Linked DNA regions of Homo sapiens: regions 1 and 2 are each linked to region 3. Evidence: fine-mapped expression QTL. A gene starts in region 3. Each other region holds a variant in brackets. All regions are shown on one strand. Distances are between the middles of the regions.

Region 1 (4,241 bases), 30 kb after region 3:
TCATAAGTAAAATTTTACATACAGAATGATTTTTTGCTTTGAAGTTGTTTCTATTTTAACAATATATAAGCATAGAAACTTGTCTAATGTAACAGTCGTCAACTATGAACCCTGGTTATTTTTGATTCTGGGAAATTGGCTACTTTTCTCTTCTGTCTTGCCTATTTACTTTTTTTTCTTTTCTTTAAATATTTTAATTAACTTATAAATATTTTATTATTTAATTAAAAATTTAAAATATGAAACGCTTCACAAATTTGCATGTCCACCTTGCGCAGGGGGACCATGCTAATCTTCTCTGTATGAGTCCAATTTTAGTATATGTGATGCCAAAGTGAGCACTATTGAATTTTTTTTAGACTTTTACACTATGTTTAAATAAACAGTGAAGTTATATTTCTGGAAAAAAATAAAATAGCTCATGATTTTCTAAACATACTAGCTGGTATCAATAAAAAATGACACTTTTGGCTGGGCACAGAGGCTAATGCCTGTAATCCCGGCACTCTGGGGGGCCAAGGCAGGCGATTGCTTGAGCACAGGAGTCCGAGACCAGCCTGGGCAACATGGTCTGGTCTTGTCTCTACAAAAAATACAAAAATTAGCCAGATGTGGTGGCACACACCTGTAGTCTCAGCTTCTCAGAAGGCTGAGGTGGGAGGATCACCTGAGCTGAATCACCTGAGGCTGCAGTGGGCTGTGATCGACCACTGCACTCCAGCTTGGGCAACAGAGTGAGGCCTTGTCTCCGAAAAAAAAAAAAAAAAAAAAGACCTTTTCGCCTGCCTTAAACTCTCTGTAGAGACCCTCTACTTCTCCATTCTCACTGCATGTAGCAGCCACATTTTCCCTCCTTGTCATATTTCCAGGAAATAATGTGGCTGAGATTTTTGTCTGTATCTTTAAAAGCAGTGGTTTGAAGACTTGTTCACAGCACCTGAATGTTACAATGCTTTTGGTGGAGCAACCTAAAATCTGACTACACCTTATTCCAGCCTAGGAACTAGAAATATTACAACAGCCAAAAGGGCGATGTGTGCACACAAATCTGTATCTCAAAAATGATGATGTAAAAAATATTTTCCAGAAAATCAGAGATCTGAGTTTTCCCATTTATATTCCTTGATCACGTGCCAACTTTATCAATATCAAAGAGTTAAAGAGATGGGCAAAGGCCAGGTGTGGTGGCTCATGCCTGTAATCCCAGCACTTTGGGAGGCTGAAGCGGGCGGATCACCTGAGGTCAGGAGTTCGAGACCAACCTGGCCAACATGGGGAAACCCTGTCTCTACTAAAAACACAAAAATTAGCTGGGCGTGGTGGCACACGCCTGTAATCCCAGCTACTCGGCAGGCTGAGGCAGGAGAATCACTTGAACCTAGGGGGCGGAGGCTGCAGTGAGCTAAGACTGAGCCATTGCACTCCAGCCTGGGTGACAGAGTGAGACTCCACCTCAAAAAAATAAAATAATAATAATAATAAAAAGATGGGCAAATGAGCGGTAGCCAGCGTCAAGGATTCGAGAACTCTTTATGGGACAATAACACTGGGAAAATCTCATCCATGGATGTTGCTATTTTCTACTAATGGGGAAAATGCTGCTATTGTTTGATTTTCAAAGCAGAATACTTTGGGGCAGCTTAAGAAATACACATGTAAAGTTCAAGGTTTGAAAAAGAGTGTCCTTAAAAGAGCCAGTTTGATTAGCCGGGCATGGTGTCATGTGCCTGTAGTCCCAGCTACTTGGGAGGCTGAGGCCGGAGAATCGCTTGAACCCAGGAGGCGAAG[G/T]TTGCAGTGAGCCGAGATTGTGCCACTGCACTCCAGCCTGGGCGACAGAGTGAGACTCTGTATCAAAAAAAAAAAAAAACAAAAAAAAGAGTGAGTTTGGTGAGTTAGTGAAATTTCCTTTCCTTCCAGGTTATATATCAGCCAGTCATTGTTTCAAACATGATTACATCTCTCAAATGAGTGATAGTAACATTTTGAGTTTCAAAATGTAAAAGGAATGGCAAGTTCTGCCAGTCTTATCCTCGAGGGAAGCAAACTGTCATGGCTTAATTGTCCCCCAGAGATCATTAGGACTGTTAATTATTTGAACTTTACTCGTTTTGGCTTTCCTAGGAAATGCAGCTGACCAGAAGTTTCTATGAAGGATATGAGGTGGGATATATCTCCCTTAATATCCCCCATACATGCCTCTTTTCCTTTTCACAGGTACAAATGGCAGACCTGAGATGGCTGTTAGAGAATTGCATCCAGAATCCCGTGTCCTGTCCTACATTTTGCACTCTGGGTACCCCCTAAACTCCATCTTTCCTCAGAAGCTTCCAGGTCCTAGAGAAGAAAGAAAGGGGACCTCATCCTATGGCCAGGGTATTGGGGCTTTACCCACATTCTCTCATGTTAAGCCCCACAAAACTCCTCAGAGGCAGGTATTATCTCATCCATTTTACAGAGGAAGGAAGAGAGGATCAAACAGTCACTTTTCCAAGAGCTTACAGCTGTAAACTAGCCAGGGGCCTGACAGAAGCCTTTCCAACTCCAAAGCCCCCATCCTTTTCATTCGTCCAGAGATCCCCCTGCAGTTACTCTCTGACCAATGACACATCTGGGCACAGTACCCATGCCATAGCTAAGGTCAAGAAATGGGAACTACAAGCCGGGCACGGTGGCTCATGCCTGTAATCCTAGCACTTTGGGAGGCCAAGGTGGGGTGGATCACTTGAGGTCAGGAGTTCGAAACCAGCCTGGCCAACATGGTGAAACCCTGTCTCTACTAAAAATACAAAAAAATTAGCTGGGTGTGGTGGCGGGCACCTGTAATCCCAACTACTTGGGAGGCTGAGACAGGAGAATTGCTTGAATCCGGGAGGTGGAGATTGCAGTGAGCTAAGATTGTGCCACTGCACTCCAGCCTGGGTGACAGAGTGACAGAGTGACAGAGCAAGGCTCTGTCTCAAAAAAAAAAAAAAAAAGGGAAATACCATTGTGATCAGTACTACAACTATTACTAGTACTCACCACCCTGATTACAGCAATTATCTTTCTGCTTTGGATTATAATTATTTGTGACTCTTGTCTTTCCCTCCAGTAAAGTGTGAGTCTTTGGATGGGAATTGTCAAAGTCACTTTACTATTCCCTAACGATGCCTAGAACAGTCAGGTGCACATGTGCCCTGGTGATTCTGGGACATTTTGGGAAATGGCTCCTCCTACAGGTGTCAAAGCTCAGTGATTAGCTTTGGTTCTGTTGACAGACGGGGCTGCCTTTTCATGGATATGCCGTGGAAAGCAGCTTCTGATGTGGGTTGCAATGATCCCCGTCCTAGTATTCATGCCCCTGTGTAATCTCTCCCCTTGAGTGTGGGCTGGACATAGGGATTTGCTTCTCATGAACAGAATATGGCAAAAGTGATGGGGGCCAGGTGCGGTGGCTCACACCTGCAGTCCCAGCACTTTGGGAGGTCGAGGCAGGCAGATTACTTGAGGTCAGGAGTTCTAGACCAGCCTGGCCAACATGGTGAAACCCCGTCTCTACCAAAAATACAAAAATCAGCCAGGCTTATTGGCTTATACCTGTAATCCCAACTACTTGGGAGGCTGAGGCAGGGGAATTGCTTGAACCTGGGAGGCGGATTGCAGTGAGCCAAGATCACACCACTGCACTCCAGCCTGAGCGACAGAGCAAGACTTTGTCTCAAAAAGAAAAAAAGTGATGGGATGTCAGTTCTGTGCGTAGGTTACAAAAGACTGTGCCTTTGCCTTGCTGTCACTCTCTCTGGCTCTTCTTATGTGCTTTCTCTGATGGAGAAGGCTGGAGAGACCTATGTGACTACAGGCTGAGGGCATCCTCTGTCCAAGAGTCCTTGAGGACCTGATCCCTGTCAGCAACCGTAAAAACAAGCCTGCAGATGAGACCGCAGCCCTGACACCTTGAATGCAGCCTTGTAAGAGCCCCGGATACAGAAGACCCAGCTAAGCCATGCCCCGACCCCCACTCCACAGGAACTGTGAGGTGATAAAGGTGGATTGTTCTAAGACACTAAGTTTGGGAGTAATTTATTACACAGTAGTCAATAATGAATCCTTATGCTAACTATGTAAGGTTTTCAGGGAGAAAGGGCTAGTCTCATTATTACCTAAATTGGAAATAAATGGAATTTGGGGGCTGCTCCCTGGGACTAGTCAGAAGGGCTAAGAAGCATTTGTATCTAAACAATTAGTCATCATAGTTGTTTTAA
Region 2 (4,241 bases), 37 kb before region 3:
GCACGATCTCAGCTCACTGCAAACTCTGCCTCCCAGGTTCAAGCGATTCTCCTGCCTCAGCCTCCCGAGTAGCTGGGATTACAGGTGCCTGCCACCACGCCCAGCTAATTTTTTGTATTTTTAGCAGAGATGGGGTTTTGCCATGTTGGCCAGGCTGGTCTCGAACTCCTGACCTCAACTGATCCACCAACCTCGGCCTCCCAAAGTGTTGGGATTACAGGTGTGAGCCACTGGGCCCCGCCACCAATACCTTAAATTTAGCTGTGTAAGATTCACTTCAGATTTCTGGCCTCCAGAACTGTATGAAAATGTATTTCTGTAGTTTTAAACCACTATGTTTGTGGAAACTGTTTTCAGGAGCAATAGAAAACTAAGATAAGCCTTGTCAGATGACAATGGTTCCAGAATACATCCTGCTGGTCTTTCGTCTGAGGCTGTTGGGTTGTTCTCCCCTTTCTTGGTGATGCCCCTGTACACCCTTTGCCTAACATATTTCTACCCCTTTGTTTTAATCAATTTAGGCTTCTCCCACAAATTACCACAGACGGACTGGTTTCAGCAACAAAAATTTCTTTCTCATGGTTCTGGAGGCTGGGAAGCCTGAGAACAGGCGCCAGCATTGTTGGGTTCTGGTGAGGGCCCTCTTCCTGGTTCAAAGATGGCCAGTTTCTCATTGTGTACTCACATGGTGGAGAGTGGAGAAAAGAAGCAAATTCTCTCCTGTCTCTTCTTATATGGACACTAATGCTATTCATGAGGGCTCTACCCTCACGGCCCAATTACCTACCAAAGGCTCCATCTCCAAATACCACCACATTGGGGATTAGGGTTTCAACATATGAATTTGGGAGGAACAAATGTTCAGTCCACAGCACCCCTTCCTTAAGGTTCACTTCAGTATCACCACCTGCTTTCCTAGTTGCCCCAGGCTGGGTGAGGACCTCCACTCAGGTTTAGCATCAGACCTGAGCTTTTCCTTACCACTGAATTCACCACAAGGTACTGTCATGGTGTGTGTTTGACTCTCCAAACAGGCCCCCAGGGTGAGCCCCAGGGTGGGGGCAGAAATCAAGAACTGTTCTTCCTAGAGTCCTCTCTGTGTAATGTCTAGCACAAGGACGAGCACATAAGAGTCTTCGATAAATATTTATTGTCTGGGTGTAGTGGCTTACACCTGTAATCCCAGCAATTTGGGAGGCTGAGGTGGGAGGATCGCTTGAGCCCAGGAGGTTGAGGCTACAGTAAGCTCTGATCGTGCCACTGCGCTCTGGCCTGGGTGACAAAGACCCTAAAAAAATAATAAATAAATAAATAAATAAATAAATATTGATTGATTGAATGAATGAATGAATGGTTAAAGCTTCTTAACCTCCTGGACGCAGGTGGCTCTCATGTCCATTGCAGTTCCTCTGTCTCTTCTTATAGCTTATCATCTGATCCTTGTACCTGCGACTGAGCCCTAAGAAATCTCCAAGTCAAACATTAGCCAGGATCAGATTTGATAGCTGGGCTGTCCACTCAGGATACTGCAAAATAAATACTACACGGAACAAGCAGAATACTAAACAAAGGACAAAATATTTGAATTTTTTTTTTTTGGTGAAAATTAGAGCTTTGAATGCAGAATGTGGTAATGCCTGATTCTTTTTTAACATGCCATTCCTTGATCTTCTCAAGCTAGCCCCTGTAGTACTGGCAGCTCAACGACCTCCCTGGTGATTCATTATGCTCTACAACTAAACTCTAATTATTCTCAAAATATTATATGGTTTAGTTGCCAATAATGCTGATTATTGAAATTCTTAGAGCTAGCCATGTGCAATTAACCAACTGATACACTTGAAATGGGATTATAGGCCTCCATTCACTACCTAATAAAGTATTAAACCAAAGCTATAAATGTAAGATTATTTTACAGATTGTTTCTCTACGGGAATTTTTACCTGATGACAGCAAAATGATTTTCCTCTTTGTCAGACAAGACAGGCTATCGTCTTCTCCAAGGTCTATAGATTCAGGGAGAAATGAGAGTGACTTTACTGATGAAAGATTTAAAACCAGAAACAGAAAAGAAAAATGCACCAGAGCAAAGCAATAAGGAATTATAAACTAACTTTAATTACATCAACAGGAAGAATTTCAAACTATGTTGTAATTCTTATTTTAAAGTTTAAATCTAATTAATATATTCTGACTAACATAATCATCCAAAGATAAAAGTATTTGTGATGGCAAATGGACAGAACAATCATTTAGGTAGCATCTAGGAATATTGCTACAATTACTTTACATAAATAGAAATCCACGTCTTTATTAGTAATGTGCCACACATCTTAGAGTAAAAATTTACATAAGATAGGCTTATAAATATACATAAATCTCAAAATTAATCACAAACATTAGGTACACAATTGTTATAAAACAAATATAACCTATCAATGTCTATGTAAAGGCATAGTTTTTACAAAATAGTATTTTGTAGACAGTCTCAAAAAAGTATATTAATACTCCTGGAGCCAGA[T/C]TGTTCCAGCATATCAGCATGTCTGTGGAAATAAGGCATCCGGAGAAGCTGCATTCACTCTTCCCCATGGCCAGGGCCTTCTATGTGATGAAACAGGTAGGATTCTAGTGACCTGGGTGAATGCTACACCCACTGCAGCACCCCATTACCTTAGAGAATCAATTACTCTCCAGAAGAATCCAACCAAATGGCTATCAGCCTAATAGCAAATATCCAGGGGAAAACTGAACACATTAATCAAGCAGCAGTGTGTTTTATGTTAAAAATCCCAAATAGCTTGATGAATCCATTACATTTTGAGTTGCCAGACATACTTAAAATCACACTAGCCTAGCCACTATTTTCATGAAGAGGAACTTATATGCAAGTCTTTTATTAAATATAAAAACAAAGAAATCTACCTTGAAACTAAATAACTGGATACTTGAATAACTGAATAAGGAACCTAATTAAATACAAAACCTGTATAGGTTGCATCAACATGCCAGTTACTCAGCTAACACTAGTCTTGGTTTCTTAACTAACAGTATAGAAAAGTCACATTCAACAGTGGTACTTTATATGTTCTTAACAATTCATATAATGTTGAATGGAGGAGGAAAGGCTTAGTAAAACATCCAGGAATCCTTTCTACAAACTACATTGCTATAAACTCAAGCATAGTTTTGCCTGTAATATGCATAATGTTCTACCTCTTGGGTTTTAAAGTAGGCAAGAGATCAGAAACAGAAACAACCTTGACAAAGACCTTCAAATGCTCATGGTGTGTATATTCAGGCCTTTGTGTATAAACACACACCATCATGTATGTACAAATATACACATGCTCCTCAAGTTACAAGAGGGTTATGTCTCAGTAAACCCATCAATTGTAAGTTGAAAATATCATAAGTCAAAACAATTATGGGACATAACCCCATTGTAAGTTGTAGGAATGTATCAAATGTATATCACTTTCATATCATCGTAAGTTTGAAAACTCTTAAGTTGAACCATCCAAATTCGGGGATCGTCTGTGTATATAAACACATGGAGAACCACCTAACTGTTCACTAAACATAACCAATTCCGTTTAGAGAACAAGGACATACAATTATACACGGCAGCAAAGTATACACATCCCAGCCTTTGGCCTAGTGCAGTGGTTCTCAAACATTTTTCCATTATGGTACATAAGGTAGATGCCACATCACATGTGTAAAACACTCCCATGGTGCAGCAGATTTTGATACAACTTTTATTTTATTTTATTTTATTTTATTTATTTATTTTTTAGACGGAGTCTTGCTCTGTTACCCAGGCTGGAGTGCAGAGGGGCAATCTCGGCTCATTGAAAGCTCCACCTCCCGGGTTCACGCCATTCTCTTGCCTCAGCCTCCTGAGTAGCTGGGACTACAGGCTCCCGCCACCACGCCCAGCTAATTTTTTTTGTATTTTTAGTAGAGATGGGGTTTCACCGTGTCAGCCAGGATGGTCTCGATCTCCTGATCTCGTGATCCGCCCACCTCGGCCTCCCGAAGTGCTGGGATTACAGGCTTGAGCCACCGCGCCCGGCCGATACAACTTTTTAAAACATCTCTAGGTTAATGAATTACTCTGAAACACTGAAATCCTTACCATGAAGAGCAGTTCAGCGCAATGGTTGTCCATGATCACCACAGTTACTTAAGACAAAACTGCTGCTTAGCCGGCTCTGTACTTTACTGCCACCACTTTTGCA
Region 3 (4,197 bases):
CACTATATGTTAAAATCTCTAATTCAGCAGTTAAGCCTCTACTTAATACATTTCCCCAAATCCATTCTCTCCATCTTCTTTAATACAATAATTCTGATTTTTGAACTGGGCATATTATGTCTCAGCTAATAGGCTCTATTTTACATCCTCCTTTGTACCTATGTGCAACCATATGATTAAGTTGTGGCCAAAGAAGTATAAAAATTGTTATATGAAACTTCCGAGTAATCCCTTTATAAAGTAGTCAGTGACCTTCTTCCTGCTTCATTTTTCCCACTGTCTAGAATGTGAACATAATGGCTGTAGCTCAAGCAGTTATTTTGAACCATGAAGTTACATGCTAAGAATTGTGAAGAAACAGAAGGGCAGGATCCAGAGACACTGGTGACCAAGGAGCCTCCAGACCAGTTCTGGATTACCTATTTCTAGTTTTCTTTCTGTAAGAGAGAAACTTCTATCTTGTTGAAGCTATTAATGTTTGCTTGTTGTATACAGCTGAACTTAATCCTAACAACAGACACATCCACTAACAGATATGAGCTCCTGGGACTCAACACTTCAAACCCCAGCTTGATGGTTGGATATCCCTCTTAGCAGAAGAAAAGGAAAGTCACTACTTCCCAAAGTTGCTTAAAGAGGCCAGTTTCCATTCCTTCTGACCACCATCCGCTTGGCTTTTGTGCTCGTTGAAGCAGCTCTACAGGGAGGCCCTTGGCTGACAAACTCCCAGTCTGCGGGCCCAGCAGGCCACAACAATGGTGGCTCGCACTAGGGGACCATAACATATGTGGCGTCATAAAAGAGGAGGGATGGGAGTGGGGAGGCTGATGTGACCCAGCTCTGACGGGTCAGTGAGCAGGAACAGAATGCTACGAGGTGGGCGCTGGTCACTGCAAATTTAAGTCAATACAGACAGGGAGGAAATAAGGCAACCTCTCTCTTTAGGTTGGGGTTTTTCTGCTTCCCCCTAGCTGCCCTGGCCAGATGGCGGCCTCCTCCCCTATAACCCAACCCCAGGCGGCAAAGGTGGAAGCCAGATCTAAGAACTGGGGGAGCTTAGACTCAGCACCCACCCCTATCCACAGCCTTGCAGAACTTGGATGACCCCTCCCTCTCCCAGCCTCACTCTCCCCATCTGTAAAGCGGGCGGCAGGCATTGACAGCTCTTTGGGCCTTTCCTCCAGGCCGGCGGAGGCCTGGGCACTGCGCTCCCCATCCTGGCCTCGCCTCTGCAAGAGCTGCCTCCACGGACATCTTTTCCGACCCCCTCCCCCTCCCTCGCCCCCTCTCCTCGTTCCCCCGATCCTCGGTCCCCCACCCCCGGTCTCCCCTCCCGCAACCCCTCGCCCTCCCGCAGCCTCACCCTCCTCCGACAGGTAGCGCAGGTCGTAGAACTCCCCCGCGAAGGTGCCGTAGGAGGAGTCGTGGCGCGGCACCGCCTCGTCGGCGCCCGTGTCCCCCCGCGCGCGTCCCCGGGGTCCCCGGCCCCCCGGGCCCGCACCGTCGTCCGCGGGGCTGGCTGCGCAGGCGGCGGGCCCCGTCAGTAGCAGCAGGAGCAGCGACGCCCAGACCCCCGGGTGCTGCCGGGGCGGCCGCGCCATCCGTGCGCACAGATCCCGCAGCCAGGCCGCTCGGGCCGCAGCGGGGGCGCCGCGGGCGCGGGCCGGGACTGAGCCTCCGCCGAGGCCACCAGCACGCGCCCGCGCAGCCGCGGAGCCTCCCGCACCCCCGCCTCCCTGCCTCGGTCTGCGCATCCTCGCTCCAGCACCGCAGCCTCCCCCTTCTTCTTGGAACCCCCCTCCTCCCCGCACCGATCTCTCCTTCCTAGCAGCTTCCCTTCTACCGTCCTTCTTTCCATTCTCCCCATCTCCCCGACTTCCCTCCACGCAGGCAGATTTGGCCCTTCTGGCCCCTTGCTACTCCGGAGTGTGGTCCGCGGACCGGCAGCATCAGCATCACCTGGAAGCTTGTTAGCATCGCTGAGGCCCCACTCCAGACCCATGAAGCGGGATGTTCATTTCATCAAAATTCCCAGGAGATCCCAATGCACGTTCAATTTATGAAACGCTCCTCTAGAGAGTTTACCCTGGACACACCTGGTCAGTGCTGCCTCCTCAACCTTGTGCCGGCACTTTTTGGTTTACATAAAGCACTTGCTAGACCTATTATTTCTTGGATCATCACAGAAGGAACTTGAAATTGCAAGACCCCCACAATAGAGCTAGGTAAACTGAGGTGTTTAGAGACAGAGAAAACTGGATTCACCTGCTTCCTCTCCAGGCTCTTGCGGTGTGTAATCAACAGAGGCTGGTGCCAGTAGGTAACCTGTTCCCCTTCAAAACTAGGCTTCTGGTTTACTCTCTTTCCCTGCAGCAAGCACGCGCAGGCCTTGGAAGGCCCACACCGTATCTGAGGGCCATGCTGAATTGTTGATTTTTCTCAAATCCATTCCTGCTGCTTGCAGTTCACTTTTGGCTATTTACTCAGCCATCCATTGATTCACACCAAGCATTTGCTTTATGGCAGGTCCCAGGGTTCTCTTTTGATGATGGTTGTTGGGGTGATATATTCGAATTGCTAAGCTGTTTTCCATCAGAGAGGCGGACGCAATTCCTTTCAGGCTGGTGTTGCAGAGCCAGCATTTTAACCTGCTTTTCCTATTTTATTATTTTATTTTATTGCATAAACAAAATAATTATGGAGGCAGAAAAGCATAGAGGTCCCAAATGCAGACCTAGAAGTCAGACTGCCTGATCTCTCATGATTAGTCATTGACATGATGCAATGAAGATTAGGGAAGATCATAGAGGTAAGGATCAATAGGGTTCAGTGCTGTAAGTGGCATGCACACATGTACACAATATTGTGAAATGTTAATATTCAAAAGGAAACTAGTGATCTTAACCCTTTATGGCCTGATTGGCTGAGAGATAAGGGTAGTGCTGTTGAAACAGGGGAGACATGATGGGGGACTTAGAAGTCAGGTATTTTCTATTAGGTATCAGCTAACAGTGGGCTGTCCAACTGGAATTTAAACATATTAATCCTGATGGCTGAATTGAGGTGTAATTCATGAAAACCTTGGGCTTCACTAGGTCCCCCAACATAGCAGTTGTCACAAAAAATAGATCAGATTATTTGAAAAAGGTAAGATGAACTATGATTACTTTAAAAACTCAAGAGACTTCTTCCCAAAAAGCATAGCGTGGCAATGCATAACATTCTAAAAAAGCTGATCCAACAGATTGAAAATCTGTTAAAGTGTAGTCCTTCAAAAAAAAAAAAAAAAACAAAAACAAAAACAAAAACCTTAAACCTTTCTTAAAAATTAAAATTTCTTTATTTTCTTTTCTTCTCTTTCTGTTCACCAGGGAAGGTATGGTCAACTTAGAATGGACCAAAGTTTAGCCAAAAAAATAAAGCATTAGACTTTTGATTTCAGTGTAGATTCTCTGGTTTGGGAATACAAGCTTTTACCTCTTACTTTCCTTTTTATTCCCTTCATTTTGGTTACTGAAATTAACAATAACGGTGCCCAAATAGAAGGCAAATGAAAACCAGGCCATTCTTCTCCGAGTAAATTAATCTGATATAAAAACACGTGGGCAGCCGGGCACGGTGGCTCACGCCTGTAACTCCAGCACTTTGGGAGGCCGAGGCGGGCGGATCACAAGGTCAGAAGATCGACACCATCCTGGCCAACACGGTGAAATCCCGTCTCTACTGAAAATACAAAAAATTAGCCGGGCATGGTGTCGGGCGCCTGAAGTCCCAGCTACTCGGGAAGCTAAGGCAGGAGAATGGCGTGAACCTGGGAGGCGGAGCTTGCAGTGAGTCGAGATCAGGCCACTGCACTCTAGCCTGGGCGACAGAGCAAGACTCCATCTCAAAAAACAAACAAAAAACAAACAAAAAAACAAAACAAAACAAAAAAAACCACCACCACGTGGGCTTTCTATATTGTTTTTATGGGGGTATTTGGGTATTTTGGGGACGGTTTACAACTACAGCCTAAAATGAAGTTTGCAGGTAAACTGTGGATTTCAATTCTCTCTCTACTCATGTAGACTCACAGGGGGCCACAGATAGGCTTCAGGGGTGATATGAGGACCTTATGAAAGTGCTGGAATAATGTTGTGATGTATGGGTTTTTCTAGGGAGAAAACCCATAGCTTTTTTTATGAATTATTTTTTCCA

Which allele goes with the higher level. Alleles are on the strand shown, and positions count from the first base shown. SD is a standard deviation of normalised expression in the study named. Not every link is listed here.
With allele C in place of T in region 2, the expression in prefrontal cortex of the gene that starts at base 1,712 in region 3 is higher (moderate effect, 0.50 SD a copy in ROSMAP).

The links. PIP is the estimated chance that this variant, and not a neighbour inherited with it, causes the effect.
Region 1: its variant is the best candidate, but not a certain one, in a credible set for the expression of FRRS1L in tibial nerve (GTEx, PIP 0.87).
Region 2: its variant is the best candidate, but not a certain one, in a credible set for the expression of FRRS1L in prefrontal cortex (ROSMAP, PIP 0.71).

The regions. Positions count from the first base shown.
Region 1 is chr9:109,195,968-109,200,208 of GRCh38, forward strand. All of the region lies in intron 20 of EPB41L4B (erythrocyte membrane protein band 4.1 like 4B), which reads right to left. It also overlaps the pseudogene RNU6-984P. Among named protein-coding and RNA genes, the nearest start is that of FRRS1L, 31 kb to the left of the region's middle. The variant G/T (reference allele first, on the strand shown) is at 1,789.
Region 2 is chr9:109,128,198-109,132,438 of GRCh38, forward strand. FRRS1L (ferric chelate reductase 1 like) reads right to left here. Exons shown (of 5, transcript NM_014334.4): 5 at 2,096-4,241. Among named protein-coding and RNA genes, the nearest start is that of TMEM245, 10 kb to the left of the region's middle. The variant T/C (reference allele first, on the strand shown) is at 2,522.
Region 3 is chr9:109,165,538-109,169,734 of GRCh38, forward strand. FRRS1L (ferric chelate reductase 1 like) reads right to left here and starts at 1,712. Exons shown (of 5, transcript NM_014334.4): 1 at 1,364-1,712. The coding sequence starts at 1,601.